Linked DNA regions of Homo sapiens. The protein of the gene in region 2 purifies or fractionates together with the protein of the main gene of each other region. This does not show direct contact. Each region holds a gene or a part of one and is shown on either strand. Other genes may lie near its edges.

Region 1 (7,611 bases), on a different chromosome or scaffold from region 2:
CAGGAGGACAGCAGCTGACGCCGGCTTCTAGCCCACCCCATTCCCTCATGCCTGCCCACCTCCCTCCCTGTCCCTGACCTGACCAGCACCTTGATTAGGGTGGTAAAATGCTGTTTGTCTCTCCGTCCAGGGTAGAGCCAGGCAAGGTCCAGCCCATCAAAGCCATGGGTGCGCAGAAATGGCGGTACTGACTTGATGAAAGTCCGGCGACTCTGGGTGTTGGAGGCTATCTTGGAAAATCTAGGACCAAAATCAGCCCTGTAGCATGCTCAGCACTGATATGCTAGGTGCCTTGGGCCTCTGGTGGGGTTTCCAGGACCTGCAGAGCTGGGATCCTGAGGCCACACAGCTCTGGGAGGGCATGATTGGGACAGGGGTCGCCTCCAGGCATGCATGTGCCTTAGAGCCAGGCATTCCAGGTTTCCAAGTCTGGCTCTATCACTTACTAGCCAGCCACTGTGAAAGGTTATAACCTGAGTCTCAGTTTCATCATCTGTAAAATGGGGACAAATATAACAGCTCACCTTGCTGTTGTGAGGACAACATGGGATCATGGGGAGACAGGGTGCTGGACACAGAAAGAGTACCCAGCACATGGGTGCCAACGATGGCCATAACCACCCCCATTTCAAGCCCTGCTCCAACCCCACCTAATCCAAAGACTCCTCCCAGGGTCTCCCCACTTCTCAATGTCCCCATTGGTTTCCATCTCTCTCTTTCCAGCCCTAATGGTGGTAGCCCCAGAAGTCCCATATTTTCGGGCCTGTGAGGTAGTAAATAGAGCATTGGCAGGGAATTGGGAGATCCACTGTTAACTTGCTGTGTGACTCTTGGCAAGTCCTGCTCTCTCTCTGGGCTCTGCTTTCTTTGCTACACATCAGGCAGGCCCTTGACAAACAGGTAGGCCTTGTACCTATCTAGTCTGGAGCCCCTGGAACATCCATACAGTGGATGCGGGAGACCCAAGCTCCTCACTCCTATGCCATCATCCTCTGCCGTCCTGCCCCTGGGGAGAGGCTCCTACCTTTGAGACCCAAAGTTCCATCCTCCGACAGACAAGAGAGTCTTCAGGTTGGGGTTCCTGTGGAGCACAGGGAGGTGGGGAGGGCAGGAGTGGAATGACATTGTCATGACACTGGGTGGCCCCATGTCTGAGAGGCCATAGAAGGTTTCCTGCTTTGGGTGAGAGGCTGGGTTAGGCCGCTGATGTCCTCCCATAGGACATCATGGGAATCCCATAGAGATTCATAGTGGTGGATCTCTGAGGGGTCACAGGCTTCATGGGAGTTACTCTGAGGTCTGCTGCCCATTTTTGTTTTCCCCAGTGGAGAAGACAGAGTATGGCAAAGTAGAGTCTTGCTCATTTTCCATGCTCCCTGGAGAGCACGTTAGGGGCAGGAGAGGGTTCCCCTCTCCCAGAGGGGCTCAGCTGCGCTTCCGTCTACAGTCTCTCATCACCCCAAATATTGCCCAGCACCTACAGTCATCCCCTCCACCCATTTAAGCCAAGCCCCTCTAACTCTCCAAACATAGGTGAGCAGGGTGGGGCCTCGCCCTTCCTCCTGGGTGGGGTTGCCCTGCCCTGGGACCAGCCCAGCTGGTCCCTCCTCTCCTGGCCAGCCCTGGCCCAACCTGTTCTTGAGTGTGTTGAGCATGCCGTAGAGCGTCACATCATTCCACTCCCAGGTGTCGATGTGATCGTTGCTTATATTGGCAAAGCTGTAGATGATGTGGGTACAGAGGAAGCGGTCAAGGGCATCTGGGAAGCAGCTCCCATCGCCTTCCCGGTACTGGGACCAGCTGGTGTAGTAGCAGACCAGTTTGTATGCAGAGCCTGAAGGAGAAGTCTGGGATGGGGCCCGGGCCAGGATTCGGCAAGAGACCTCAGGCTGAGCCCAGAGCTGAGCACCAATGGGGTGTGGGGTTGGGTAGGGAGGAGTGGGGTGCAGATTGTGAGCAAAGTCAGAATTCTTAAATGAAAGGAGCTGGTTCAGGTCCCCCTGCCTCTGGGGAGTTCCCTGACTGGTGAAAATAAGGCCTATTCTGAAAATGCTTAGAAAAGATCCAATGCAGGGGATGAATACGCTACAGGCACTGTGTGGGGGAAGGGTAGGAGCTGGGGAATAAGGATGAAATGGGACTTGGTGCCAGCACAGCAGGCTTCCTGGAAGCAGTGGCTTTGTGGGAGGGGAAGGCCCAAGATAGCCTGTGTCACAGATGGCCCTGGCTTTCAGGCTGGCACCTTTAGTGACCTGCAGTGAGGTCCTTCATCCATGAGGGACTCTGGCCCACCTTTCTCTGCCTCCTGGTGAGAGTGCCTCTAACTTGTAACCCACCCGGAATGGCAGTCCTGTGCTCCCTCGGCATGTCCCCCAGGCTGGGGCACAATATCACAATGGACCAGGAAATCCTTCCTCGCCTCTAATTCTGTTTCTCCTGCTGCAAACAATGTGGGCATCACTCATCCAAGCAGCTACTGGGCAACTGTACTAGCGGCTCCCAGGGGCTGTTAGTCAAAGCCTTCACTGAACCAGGACCTTTTAAAGTTTCTTATTTTGAGAATTTTCACATATACCAAAGAGTATAGCAAAATAAACATCCATATACTCCTCACTCCAGTTTAGCAAACGTGACTATTTCGAAGTCATTGGAAGCACAGAAGAACCTGGCAAAGTGTTCCCTTGGAGCTAAGACCTCCTCCACACCTGCCCTGTGCCCTCGCCACGCCTCTGGACTTAAAAGTGGAGGTGGAGGGATTACTCACAGCACTGGAGCAGCACCAGGACCACAAAGCCTGAAGAGAAATCCAGGATGAGACCCCTGCAAGTGCATCCTGCCCTTCCGCCCTGCTCCCTCCCCCAAGCAACTGAGACCCACCTCCCCCACCCCCACCTCCTGGTTGCAGCCTCAGTCCCTCCCCTGGCTCTGCTTCTCCTCCCCCTCTGCCCACTCCCTTAGTCCCTCACCCAGCAGGCAGATGGCTCTGCGGGCTGTCTGGGCCTGAAAACCCACAACTCTGATGGATTAACCTTGGCTAGCCCAGATACCTGTTTGAGACGCCTTCACACCCATTCTGGCTGCAGCAGAGCAGGGCAGGGTGTGGCCTCTTCCCTTGCCCACGGCTCCTGGTGCCAGCTACCTAGACAGGGCCTCTTCCCCAGGCCCTGTACTTCCTTTATATACCTGTCCCACTCCACTCCCCGACGCGGCAAACCAGCCCTTTTATGGGAACTGAGCTATGTGTCAATGAAGGAATCACGAGGCTGGCAAGTGGAGGCGGGGGAGTACTATGGATTACCAGAGGAGGGTTGAGAAACCGCAGAGTTTTGAAAACTTTGGGTCAGGTCTTCATGAGGCACCTGCCAGCAGAAGAGCCACTAGGGTGATGATGGGGGGCTTCTGGAGATGTGACTCAGCCGCATTTCCCAGCCTTCCTCCCACTCCTGCACCCCACCACTGGCCTTTCTTGCCAGCAATTTCCTGGCTTTTCTGGCAGCCTCTACCTTTGCATCTTCAGCATTCACTCCAGGCCCCTGGCCAGGTGGAAACTGGGCACAATTTAGTTACGTAAGCCACAGTGCCCTAAACAAGGCTGTTGTTTTCTTCCCAGGCTCAGCATTGCCCTGCTTGACCTACCTTCCTACCCTCCCCCTCACACTTTCTGTCTTCAGGCTGGGTAAGGGCCAGAGAGCCTCGGGAGGAAGGAAAGCAAAGAGCCTGAAACTGAGCGCTCCCTTTTGGGCCCGTGTCTTTTTTTTTTTTTTTTTTTTTTTTTTTGCAATTTACATGCTGATTATTTAGAGGGAAAGACAGGGAAATTCCCAAGAATGCTTTAAGCCCCGGTGCTATTTTGCTTCTGTTTTGAAATTCCCATAAAGAGAGAGGATCTTTTGCAAGCTCGGTGCTGCAGTGAGGCACCATGGAGGAAATACAGGCCCTACGGGGCGGCTGCACGAGCATCTGACATCAGTCAGCTCCCCAACTCTCTCAGTGAGGCTTTGGAACCCAAGCCTGATGATACAGCCCCTCTCTAAATCCTTCAGTGATCTCTCATCACTCCTAGGACAAGAACAAAACTTCTTAACGAGGCTCCCTGCCTGATTACGTCCCTGTTTGTGGATACATTTTTTTTTTGGCCAAATATCCAGGACAACTCCATTCTTTGCAGGCTTAACATTAATTAATAGGCAGTGAGTGAAAAGTTCAGAACTCCAAGAGGCAGAATGGGTCCAAGGGCTTCTCAAGAAAGTACCTTTATTTTTCACTAATGTTAGGTAATACTCTAATTTTTCCAGGCTGGTTTTGCAGCTCTCTCGGTGAGGTCTCTCTGCTCTCTCCCTCTTCTCTCCCTCTCTCCCTTTCTCTTCCTTTAAAACTCAGCCAGTGCCTTCCCTTCATTGTAAGAGAGGTGGACAAAAAGTGGCTTGTCCAGAATCACGCTCGGTGAATACTAAAGAGGCATCACTTTTCCTTTTTAAGATGACTGCCTCCTTTTGTACCCAAGATGATTGACAGCAATGACAGTCAATGATAGCTTCTTCTGGTTCATTTGGGGCACTGAGAGGAGGACTTCTAATTTCTAATAGTGATATTATGAAGTGGCATGCAGATGCAAAATTTTTCATCACAGAGCACAGGATGTTAAGAAAACACCTCCTATTTTCACTATCTCCCTTTGTTAAAAATTATTTCATAGGCTTAGATTGGCCCAAGCCTTGTTGTCCTATGCTCCCTCAAGCTCAGTTTATTAATTCCACATGCTCTGCCTGAAGGCAGCTTTGTAACAACAAATGGCCAAGATACCCCCAGGCCTGTGTTAGCAGGATTGGCCAAGGGTCTCATAGGCTCACCACCTCCCAGCCTTATCTCAGGCCATGACCCCCACCCTCCCTATATTCCACTCATGCTTATATGTCTTCTTTTAAATCCTTATATTTGCTCTACTGACTCCCGCCACAGGGCCTTTATATATGACATCCACTTGCCTGTAAATAACGATGAAAGATCTGAGATTTTATGCTACTTGCAAATTAATGACATAACTACAGTTTCGTGGATGTTGGCAGAAGACACGAGACTCCTAGGTCAGAGACAAAGGACTTTATTATCCATGGTACAGCAAGCAGCATGAACTTCATGTTAGGGTCAGTTCCCCTTAGCCCTCAGGTCTCACAAGGGCAGTGTTGGAGGAGCCCAGGTAGATGCCATGAATGCAATGAGTTACATCACAGCAGAGGAATCCCTAGTTTAAGGAACTCAAATCTTTCATGATGAGCAGTAAGCCTTCCTCACCTTGGCCAGCCCAAGATAAGGGAGACATTATCTTTATTACTGGACAGTAAACAAATCTGCCTTTTGGTCTGGAGGGGGGACGCTATTTCTATCTTCCAAGGCTGTTTGCTGTACAAACATCACTAAAAAGATTGCCTAGAACAAAGAAGCCAGTGCCTCTGCACATAAGCTGTGCAGGAAATGCAGGCAACCCATGGAGAATTGCGGTTGGAGAATTGCGGATGGAGAATTGCAGCCTAACACTGCTCTTCTTTGACTGCTTTATTCTTCCTCATCCTTCAGATTGCAGCTCAGGAGTCACCTTGTCTGCAGAAAAGGCAGTCTCCAGGTGACAGAAAACCCGCTATAGGGCTGTCAGAGCACTTTGTACCTCTCTCCTTAACACCTGACTCAGTTATAATTTTATATGTTGTGTGTGGCAGTGGATGTTTTGTTTGCCTCTCTCACTAGACTATAAACTCAGTAAAGGCAACGGCTGGGTCATTTTATCCACCTTTGTATCTATCCCCAGTGCTTGAGACATAGTAGATGCTCAGTAAAGTACTCGTTGAATAAATGAACAAATGATCTCAAAATGGTGCATAACTTCACACTCTTATGAGTTTAAACCCTGATGTTCTCAAAATTTCATCTCATTCAATAGTTTTTGTTACCCTGTGAAGAACTGACTCAGGAGGTGCCATAAAACCACAAAACAAGCTTCCTGACTTAATTTCCCTAATCAAACATTTCTAGGCCCCACAGTACATTGATAGTGTTCAACCAATGTTTATTAAGTAAGTGTACTAGAGTAGTTGCCTTCCACTGAGGTAGACAGTAGAGACAGAAAGGTGAATGGGAACAGAGAGGCAGTCCCTGTCCTCATGAAGCATACAGTCTGGCAAAGAAGATGGACATTAAACAAAGAAAAGCAAGTAATGTATTACGAAGGAAGGGCAGGTGTTAGTCTGCCCCTTGCCCACCGTCCCCTACACACAAAAAAAATTGTGCAAAAACCTGGAGCAGGAAGAGGTTGTTATGTTCAGGAACCAGAAGAATTCAAGAGTGGTTGAGGCATGGAATTAGCAGGAGGGAGCTCGAGGGAGGCACAAGATGAGTCTGGATCAGGAGCCAGAGGGTGGACATTACCACCATTCAGAAAACAAGCTCCTGGGAGCCTGGGCTGGCCCCTTGGGCACAGTGGTTTTGAGGATTCCTTCATTTTGCATGGCGTGTCAGAGCAAACAGAGGTGGTGTTGATGCCCCACCAAATGCTTGAGGAGAATTCTCTCTTTTACAAGTAGTCTCTTCCTCCAGAGGGTGGACTTCTGCCAGGCAGGAATTCAAATCATCTCCAAATCCTCAGCTCGGTGGTGGTGCTGGCGCACAGTAGAAGCTGTCGAAGACTCAGAGGCAGAAACACTTAGAGAAGAAAACAGTTGCTTGTGAAAAGCGGAAGCGAGTCAGATTTCAGAATGGCTGGCTCGTCAAATGCAAAATGCAACAAGTATTTGAAGGGGAAAAAAAAATGACCCAAGGTTATCACGTTTGGTGGAGATCAGCATCATTTTTACAACACATCTTCACTTATCAGCATAGCAAAAATCAGGGATGAAATTGTTTTTTTCGGGGAATTTTTTTTCTTTTTGAGACAGAGTCTCACTCTGTCACCCAGGCTGGAGTGCAGTGGCGTGATCTGGGCTCACTGCAGCTTCGACCTTCTGGGCTCAAGCCATCCTCCTGCCTCAGCCTCCCAAAGTGTTGGGATCAATGGCGTGTGCAACCACACCCAGCTGGGAATCCAAATTTATGGGAAATAGCCAAGGCTTATTATTTTGGTGTCTTAAACCACTCAGGATAACCTATTATTCTTGGCTTATCTCCAGATGCAAATTATTCCCATCCCCACCCCGCAGTGGTACTTGGTCATGAATGAAGCCAGTAGAGTGAAGAGTTGGGCTTTGCGTCTACGGATTTTCCTTCCTTGTGGGCAAGTCCTTGCCATTGAGGCATGGGTTGAACCGTATATGTTGCTTAATAACTTCCTGATGCAGCATCATCAAATTGATATTTTGTTTTATTTGACCAAAATTTATTTCTATTGACATAACAGGAGGTGTTGATGAAATAAATACTTTCTTTTTGTATGGCTAGCGAAACCAGAGCCACATGATAGTGATGCTTTACAGTGAGCTTCTGTCTGGAGGCTTTGTAAAGCCCCTAGGGCTGGGAAGAAATTACTTTTATGTGTGAAGTATTATATCAGCACCATTTTCTCTAAGATTCCCATATGTGTTAATATTCCTAGACTGCCAGGAAATGTAGGTTTTATTTATTTAT
Region 2 (7,272 bases):
TGAGTAGGTGAAATGACATGAACAAGGTGTGTGCAAAAGAAAAGGAAACCTGAAAGTCCATGAGTAGAGGACGGCTTAAATAAATTATGGTGTATTTACATAACGGAAGACTATGCAGCTAAAAAAAAAAATGAGGAAACAACATATAATAGGTTAAAAAATGCCAAGATATACTAGTAGAAAAAACAAGGCACAGAACATTGCCTTTAATTTACTATTTATGTTTTTAAAATAAGGGAAAGAATATATTCACATACATATATTTATTATGGAGGCATAAAATAGATGGCTGGAAGACATTTTACATTAGTTGTATATGGGGAAGAAACTGATTGCAAGAAACAAAATAAAAAAGAGGCTTTTCATTATTTTTCTTTCTTTGAATTTCAAACCATATGAATGTACTGCCCACACAGAAATATTAAAAGAACTCTGCTTTCTTTTCTATCAAGCCAGATCACCAGAGATCATTCTTAGCATTATTTTAGCCCCTTACAAGATTGCTTTTGGCCTCTACTGTATATATTATATACAAACGATAGTGATTGCATCAGATGATAATTCCTCATCAGAATTCAAGGGAAAAATTATTCTTAGGACCTTTGAGCTTGCTTTTTTTTTTTTTTTTTTTGAGATGGAGTCTCGCTCTGTCACCCAGGCTGGACTGCGGTGGCCGTGATCTCGCTCACTGCAACCTCTGCCTCCCAGGTTCAGGCAATTCTCCTGTCTCAGCCTCCCTAGTAGCTGGGACTACAGGCATGCACCACCACACCTGGCTAATTGTATTTTTGGTAGAGACAGGATTTCGCCATGTTGGCCATGCTGGTCTGAGCTTTCATTTTTAAAACACTTATCTCTGACCCATCTTATTTCCCTTACTTTATTTTTATGTCAACTTCTTCAGGGATTAATTAGTATTATTTTATACTATTTTTTTTCAGACATGGTCTCGCTCTGTCACTCAGGCTAGGGTGCGGTGGCACCATCATGGCTCACTGCAGCCTTCAACTCCTGGCCTCAAGCAATCCTCCTTCCTCGGCCTCCCAAAGTGCTGGGATTATAAGCATGAGCCACCATACCCGGCCTGAATTTCAATAAGCATCATTAATCCATTCTACAATCCATCAGGTAACCAATTATATTTAATAATAATTCTGCCCAGGCGTGGTGGCTCATGCCTGTAATTCCAGCACTTTGGGAGGCAGAGGTGGAGGCGGATTGATTGCTTGAAGTTTAGACCAGCCTGGGCAACATGGCGAAACCCTGTCTGTACAAAAATTAGCTGGGCATGGTGGTGCACAACGGTCATCCTACTTATTAGGGAGACTGAGGGGGGAGGATCACTTGAGTCCAGGAGGTCAAGGCTGCAGTGAACCATGAGCATGCCACTGCACTCCAGCCTGGGTGACACAGCAAGACCCTGTCTCAAATAATGATAAAATAATAATAATTAATTCTGTCACAGCTACCATAAATGCTTTCAAATGGGTTTGCTATAAGACTTCCAGCAACAGTAATATTTGTTCCAGTTCATTCATGTGCACCTAAATGGCCAAAAGACACATTTTTAACACCAAGATAATTGAACTTATGGTTGTTGGCATCATTAGCCTCAACCATGTTCTACCCAGCTGCAAAATAAAACAACAGTGTGTTTAAACCAGATTCTTGAAATGACATGATTGTGCTTGTGCTGTCTAAATGAGAAGTCATTTTAATTCCAAAGGTACACAGGTCTTTTTTTTTTTTTGAGACAGGGTCTTGCTCTGTCACCCAGGCTAGAGTGCAGTGGTGTGATCATGGCTCACTGTGGTCTCAAACTCCTGGGCTCAAGTGACTCTCCTGCCTCAGCCTCCCAAGTAGCTGGGACTATAAGCGCATACCACCACGCCCAGCTAATTTAGTTTTTGTAGAGATGAGGTCTTGCTATGTTTCCCAGGCCGGTCTCAAACTCCTGAACTCAAGCAATCCTCCCACCTTGGCCTCCCAAAGTGCTGAGATTATAAGCCTGAGCCAATGCACCTGGCCTATCCTCCTTTTTCTACATCTATCAAATATCTATGAAACAGGTAAACAAACAAAACAGACAAAAATAAACAACATTTACCAGTAGCATAGATGGCTTTGTAAAGCAAATAAATACTCATTAAAACTTTCAATAGGCTTCTCCTGTAGCACATAGTCAATGCGTTGGCCTCCATTCAGCATCCCCACATTGATAGGCAGGACTTCTTCTTTAACTGCCACAGAGGTCTCTTCTGTGTTAACATCTGGATATGGAAGAACCATAATAAGAATCTAAAACCTTTTGGCCTTCAGGGTTATCCTGTTAACTTCTCCTCACACTCCAAGTTTACCAGAGAATGAGCTACTCTCTGTTCAGAGAGCTCTCTCCCATCTTCCTCCTCTCAATCTCCTTCAAGCTCCTTCTCAGGTCACAGTAATTTTGTCCAATCCCCTTTTTTGCTTTTGCGCAACACATCTCATTACCTATACCATTGATAGCTAGGTCATTTGCCTTGGGTTTATACTAAATGCAAGCAGGAATAGAGCTCTTTAGAAGTTGAAAACTAAAGCAAAAGAATGCAATATTAACTATGAAATTAAATGTGAAATTAAATTAAATTAACTATGAAAAACGCCACACCATGGCATCCCTCTTATCTGGCAGCTGGTCAATGTGTACAGTGTCACTGACCACTAGGCTTCTCTGAAGTTGATTCAGGTTCTGCTTCAGTTTCTTCTGGTGTTTCTGAAGCTTGTAAGGCAGGGTATGGAGCTCTGGTAAAAGACTTCCAGGCCATCCGCAGCGAACCTAGCAAGTTGTTCTTAAGGTCCATACTCATCCTGGTCAAGCCCTCTCTCAGTTCTGAAACATATAAATAAAGAACATTAAATGATTTACAAAGAGCTTAGGGTCCAACATAGCTGAACAGAGTGAATGATGCCCTTTGCACTGGCCAAAAGGTCTAGAATTATCAAGTTCTATGCTCGGACTTACCTAAGTGCATCCGCTTCCTGCCTTTATGATGTGGGATCAGCATTGGCTCAAATTCCACTCCTGGGACCACCATTGGTTCAATCCTATAGGCCACAGGATCAAACTACATAGGAAAAACAAGAGCTACATTTACCTCTGCTAAGCACAGTCTGGAAACTATATAACTTTTTTTTTTTTTTTTTTGAGATGAGGTCTCGCTCTGTCACCCAGGCTGGAGTGCAGTGGTGCAATCATGGCTCACTGTAGCCTTCAACTCCTAGGCTCAAGCAATCCTCCTGCCTTGACCTCCCAAAGTGCTGGGATGACAGGCATTAGTCACCATGTACAACCAGAACTATGTATCTTAAACAATAATCATAAGTTCATTTAAAAAAATGTACAGTTCTGCTCCATCACTTCCAAATCAATACTATTATAAGTTGTCTCATTGCTAGACAATGGAATAGGAAAAAAAAATCAACACAACAGAAAATCCTATGTTCTTTAACAATAAGCCCTGATATTTAGGTAAAACCACAATAGCTGTACAATGCTTACAGGGTGATAAATATTGAAGAAACCTTTGCACGTTGGAAATCTGTAGTTGGGATCAATTCTTTTTAGTCCTCGGACAGTAAGGAACATTCCAATGGGAGATCCAAAGGCAAAGAATATCTCTGGTTTATAGATGAGCCGGGGGTATTTCACAGACACCTCAAAGGAGGAAAATAAAAGCATCTCTCATTAATAACAAAAGTTACATCTGTTTCTACCATACAAATAGCAGGCTGTAAAATGATCAAAGAGAATTAGTTACCTGCCCAATGCCAACATCCAGATAGTCACCATTTCTAGTATTACTGCTACTGCAGAACTCAGATTCTTTGGGGATGTTTGCCCCTGAAGCAGGCTGCGGGGCTGGTCTCTTAATACCCTAAAGAATAAAAAATAGTTATGTGGAGAAGCTGGGCATGACGGCATGCACCTGTAGTCCCAGCTACTCAGGACCCTGAGGTAGGTAGGTAGGTAGGATTGTTTAAGCCCAAGAGTTCAAGTCCAACGTGGGCAACATAGTCTCTATTTAAAAAAAAAGTATGGGGAGCTACTATATAGTAAAAGTATAGCCAAAGGATTATATAGTTTTCTACTGGTTTGAAAGGACCCTTGGGAAAGTTCTGAAATGGCAGCCAAAAATTCTAGGAAGATTTCCTCAGAAAACAAGATTAAATTATTGCCTTAAATTGTTAATTGACATTCTTAGATGCTCTAAAATGATGAAAGTTGTACATAGCCATTTCAGTAGCGTTGAAACTTTAGGCAACAATCATAAGAGAAAACAATAGCAGGGCACTGTGGGAAGATAATGCTGAGGATTGCTAGAGTTCTATGAAGTGCTGTGCCTCTGTAATCAAGGGAAGTAGGATGTCGATGGGCTGGGCCAAGAACTGAGTCTTTAAAAAGAAATGAGCCACCTGCTAAAAAGTTGGAAAAGAACTAACTACTGGCCAGGCATGGTGGCTCACGCCTGTAATCCCAGCACTTTGGGAGGCTGAGGTGGGCGGATCACTTGAGGTCAGGAGCTCAAGACCAGCCTGGCCAACATGGTGAAACCCCATACTAAAAATACAAAAATTAGCTGGGTGTGGTGTCGCGTGTCTGTAATCCCAGCTACTCAGGAAGCTGAAGCAGGAGAATCACTTGAATCCAGGAGGCGGAGGTTGCAATTGAGCCAAGATCGTGCAACTGCACTCCATCCTGGGCGACAGAGCAACACTCCGACTCAAAAAGAAAAAAACTAACTAATAAGATATGGAGTTAGAAATTCAGTGACCAGAAAAACTGAATGTGGAAGTACTGTTAACACAGGTAAACCTTCAGAATATTATGCTAAGTGAAAGAAGTCAGACACATGGCTCAAAAGGACATTCCATTTATATGGAATGTCCAAAATAAGCAAATCTGTAGAAACAGAAAGTAGATTAGTGGTTGACAGAGGCTGGGGGCAGGGAGCAATGGGGAGTGACAGCAAATGGGTATGGGGTTTCCCTAAGGGACAATGGAAATGTGCTGAAATTGGATAGTGGTAATGGTTACATAACTCTATGAATATACTAAAAACCATTAAATTGTAAACTTTAAAAGGGTGAATTTTATGGTATGTGATGTGAAGTAGATATTGGTAAAACTCTCATGAAAAGAAAAAAGCAAAAAATAAATAAATAAATAAATGGTAGGAGAATTCCAGAGGAGAGAAGACTTCTGAAGCTAATAATACTTTTAAGGATGTAAAAAAAGAAGGGCCAGGAGCGGTGCAGCACTTTGGGAGGCTGAGGCACATGGGTCATCTGAGGTCAGGAGTTCAAGACCAGCCTGGCCAACATAGTGAAACCCCGTCTCTACTAAAAATACAAAAAGTTAGCTGGGCATGGTGGTGCACACCTGGAATCCCAGCTACTCAAGAGGATGAAGCAGGAGAATTGCTTGAACCTGGAAGGTGGAGGTTGCAGTGAGCCGAGACCACCCACTATACTCCACCCCGGGCAACACAGCGAGATTTCATTTCCAGGAAAAGAAAAAAAAAAGAATGTAAAAAAGAAAATGTGTTTAATTTCTAGAAAGAGAGCCAAAGATCGGCCAGGCGGGTGGCTCACACCTGTAATCCCAGCACTTTGGGAGGCCAAGGCGGGCAGATCACAAGGTCAGGAGTTTGAGACCAGCCTGGCCAATATGGTGAAACACCGTCTCTATTAAAAATACAAAAATTAGCCAGGCATGGTGGTGGGCGCCTGTAGTCCCAGCTACTCGAGAGGCTGAGGCAGGAGAATCGCTTGAACCCGGGAGGCAGAGGTTGCAATGAGCTGGGATCACACCACTGCACTCCAGCCTGAGTGACAGAGCGAGACCCTGTCTCAAAAAAAAAGAGCCAAAGATCAATTACCAAAAAACTGCTTGGCTCCCCAGAGTAAACATCCCACAAAGCACAAGGACACACTATGGACATCAAAGAATTGTTTAGTCCAACAAGCTGTATTAGGCACATACCATTGAGTTTTTTCTGGTGCTGAAATAGTTTAATATCTTCTTTCTTGGTCCTAAAGGAATTCCTATTTCCTGAAGATCTCGGTCTGTACATAAAGCCTAGGCATAGAAAATCAAGTCTTTCTTATTTCTAGACAAAATAAAATCAATCCTGTCCCCTAAGAGGAACAAGGCCTAGGCACTCTGTTGCTGCCTGTCTCTCTAGTAGTAAAACATCATAGAATAACTTCCAGAAAAAAGGACCTGTTTTATTCATGAAACAGCCTAAAAAAGAATAGAAAATATCAATACTTATAATATCAATGTTACAATAATATAGACATTGTTATTGTTAAAAAAAAAAAAAAAAAACAGAGAAGTTGGGTATCTAAGGACTTCAGGACATAAAAATCTTCCTTGATTTCTGGCCAGGCGCGGTGGCTCACGCCTGTAATCCCAGCACTTTGGGAGGCCGAGGCGGGTGGATCATGAGGTCAGGAGATGGAGACCATGGTGAAACCCCGTCTCTACTAAAAATACAAAAAAAATTAGCCAGGCGCAGTGGCAGTCACCTGTATTCCCAGCTACACAGGAGGCTGAGGCAGGAGAATGGCGTGAACCCGGAAGGCAGAGCTTGCAGTGAGCCGAGATCGCGCCACTGCACTCCAGCCTGGGCAACAGAGCAAGACTCCGTCTCAAAAAAACAAAACAAAACAAAAAAACTTCCTTGATTTCTATACTGACTTAGATGTCACATGCCTGAGAAGGATTATACTCCTGCTGATGAACGCAAGCACTGAGAACATACAGCAAACACACAAGTATGGAACAGACTAACAATCAAGATCTCAAGTGTCACTCATCGTTTTTTTTTTTTTTTTTTGAGATGGAGTCTTGCTCTGTCGCCCAGGCTGGAGTGCAGTGGTGTGATCTCAGCTCACTGCAACCTCCACCTCCTGGGTTCAAGCGATTCTCCTGCCTCAGCCTCCCAAGTAGCTGGGACTACATGTGTGTGCCACCACACCCAGCTAATTTTTGTATTTTTAGTACAGACAGGGTTTCACCATGTTGACTAGATTGGTCTCGAACTCCTGACCTCGTGATCTGCCCACCTCGGCCTCCCAAAGTGCTGGGATTACAGGCATGAGCCACCACACCCAGCCAGCTATCACTCATTTGATTAGGGAAGCCTTCCTGCACCTTATGAGACCAGGTTAATTCTTACAACACGGTGTACTTTTCCTACTTACTTATTGTAATTGCCATGATGTGTG

What was found.
Region 1: the proteins of DDHD2 (region 2) and CHI3L1 purify together in Homo sapiens (affinity purification with mass spectrometry; 2 studies listed by BioGRID and IntAct, with this or other methods). This does not show direct contact.

What each region holds. Positions count from the first base shown.
Region 1 is NC_000001.11:203,183,552-203,191,162, forward strand, and holds the start of CHI3L1 (chitinase-3-like protein 1 precursor), read right to left. Parts: upstream 3,154-7,611; 5' UTR 3,073-3,153; coding exon 3,048-3,072; intron 2,795-3,047; coding exon 2,765-2,794; intron 1,835-2,764; coding exon 1,633-1,834; intron 1,082-1,632; coding exon 1,025-1,081; intron 259-1,024; coding exon of another isoform or gene 241-258; coding exon 90-240; intron 1-89. UniProt on the Homo sapiens protein: Carbohydrate-binding lectin with a preference for chitin. Has no chitinase activity. May play a role in tissue remodeling and in the capacity of cells to respond to and cope with changes in their environment.
Region 2 is NC_000008.11:38,248,554-38,255,825, reverse strand, and holds part of DDHD2 (triacylglycerol hydrolase DDHD2), read right to left. Parts: intron 6,119-7,272; coding exon 6,023-6,118; intron 3,915-6,022; coding exon 3,798-3,914; intron 3,695-3,797; coding exon 3,539-3,694; intron 3,105-3,538; coding exon 3,002-3,104; intron 2,870-3,001; coding exon 2,699-2,869; intron 2,271-2,698; coding exon 2,108-2,270; intron 1-2,107. UniProt on the Homo sapiens protein: Diacylglycerol (DAG) and triacylglycerol (TAG) lipase required for proper lipid homeostasis in the central nervous system. It cooperates with PNPLA2/ATGL in neuronal TAG catabolism and hydrolyzes sn-1,3 DAG downstream of PNPLA2/ATGL.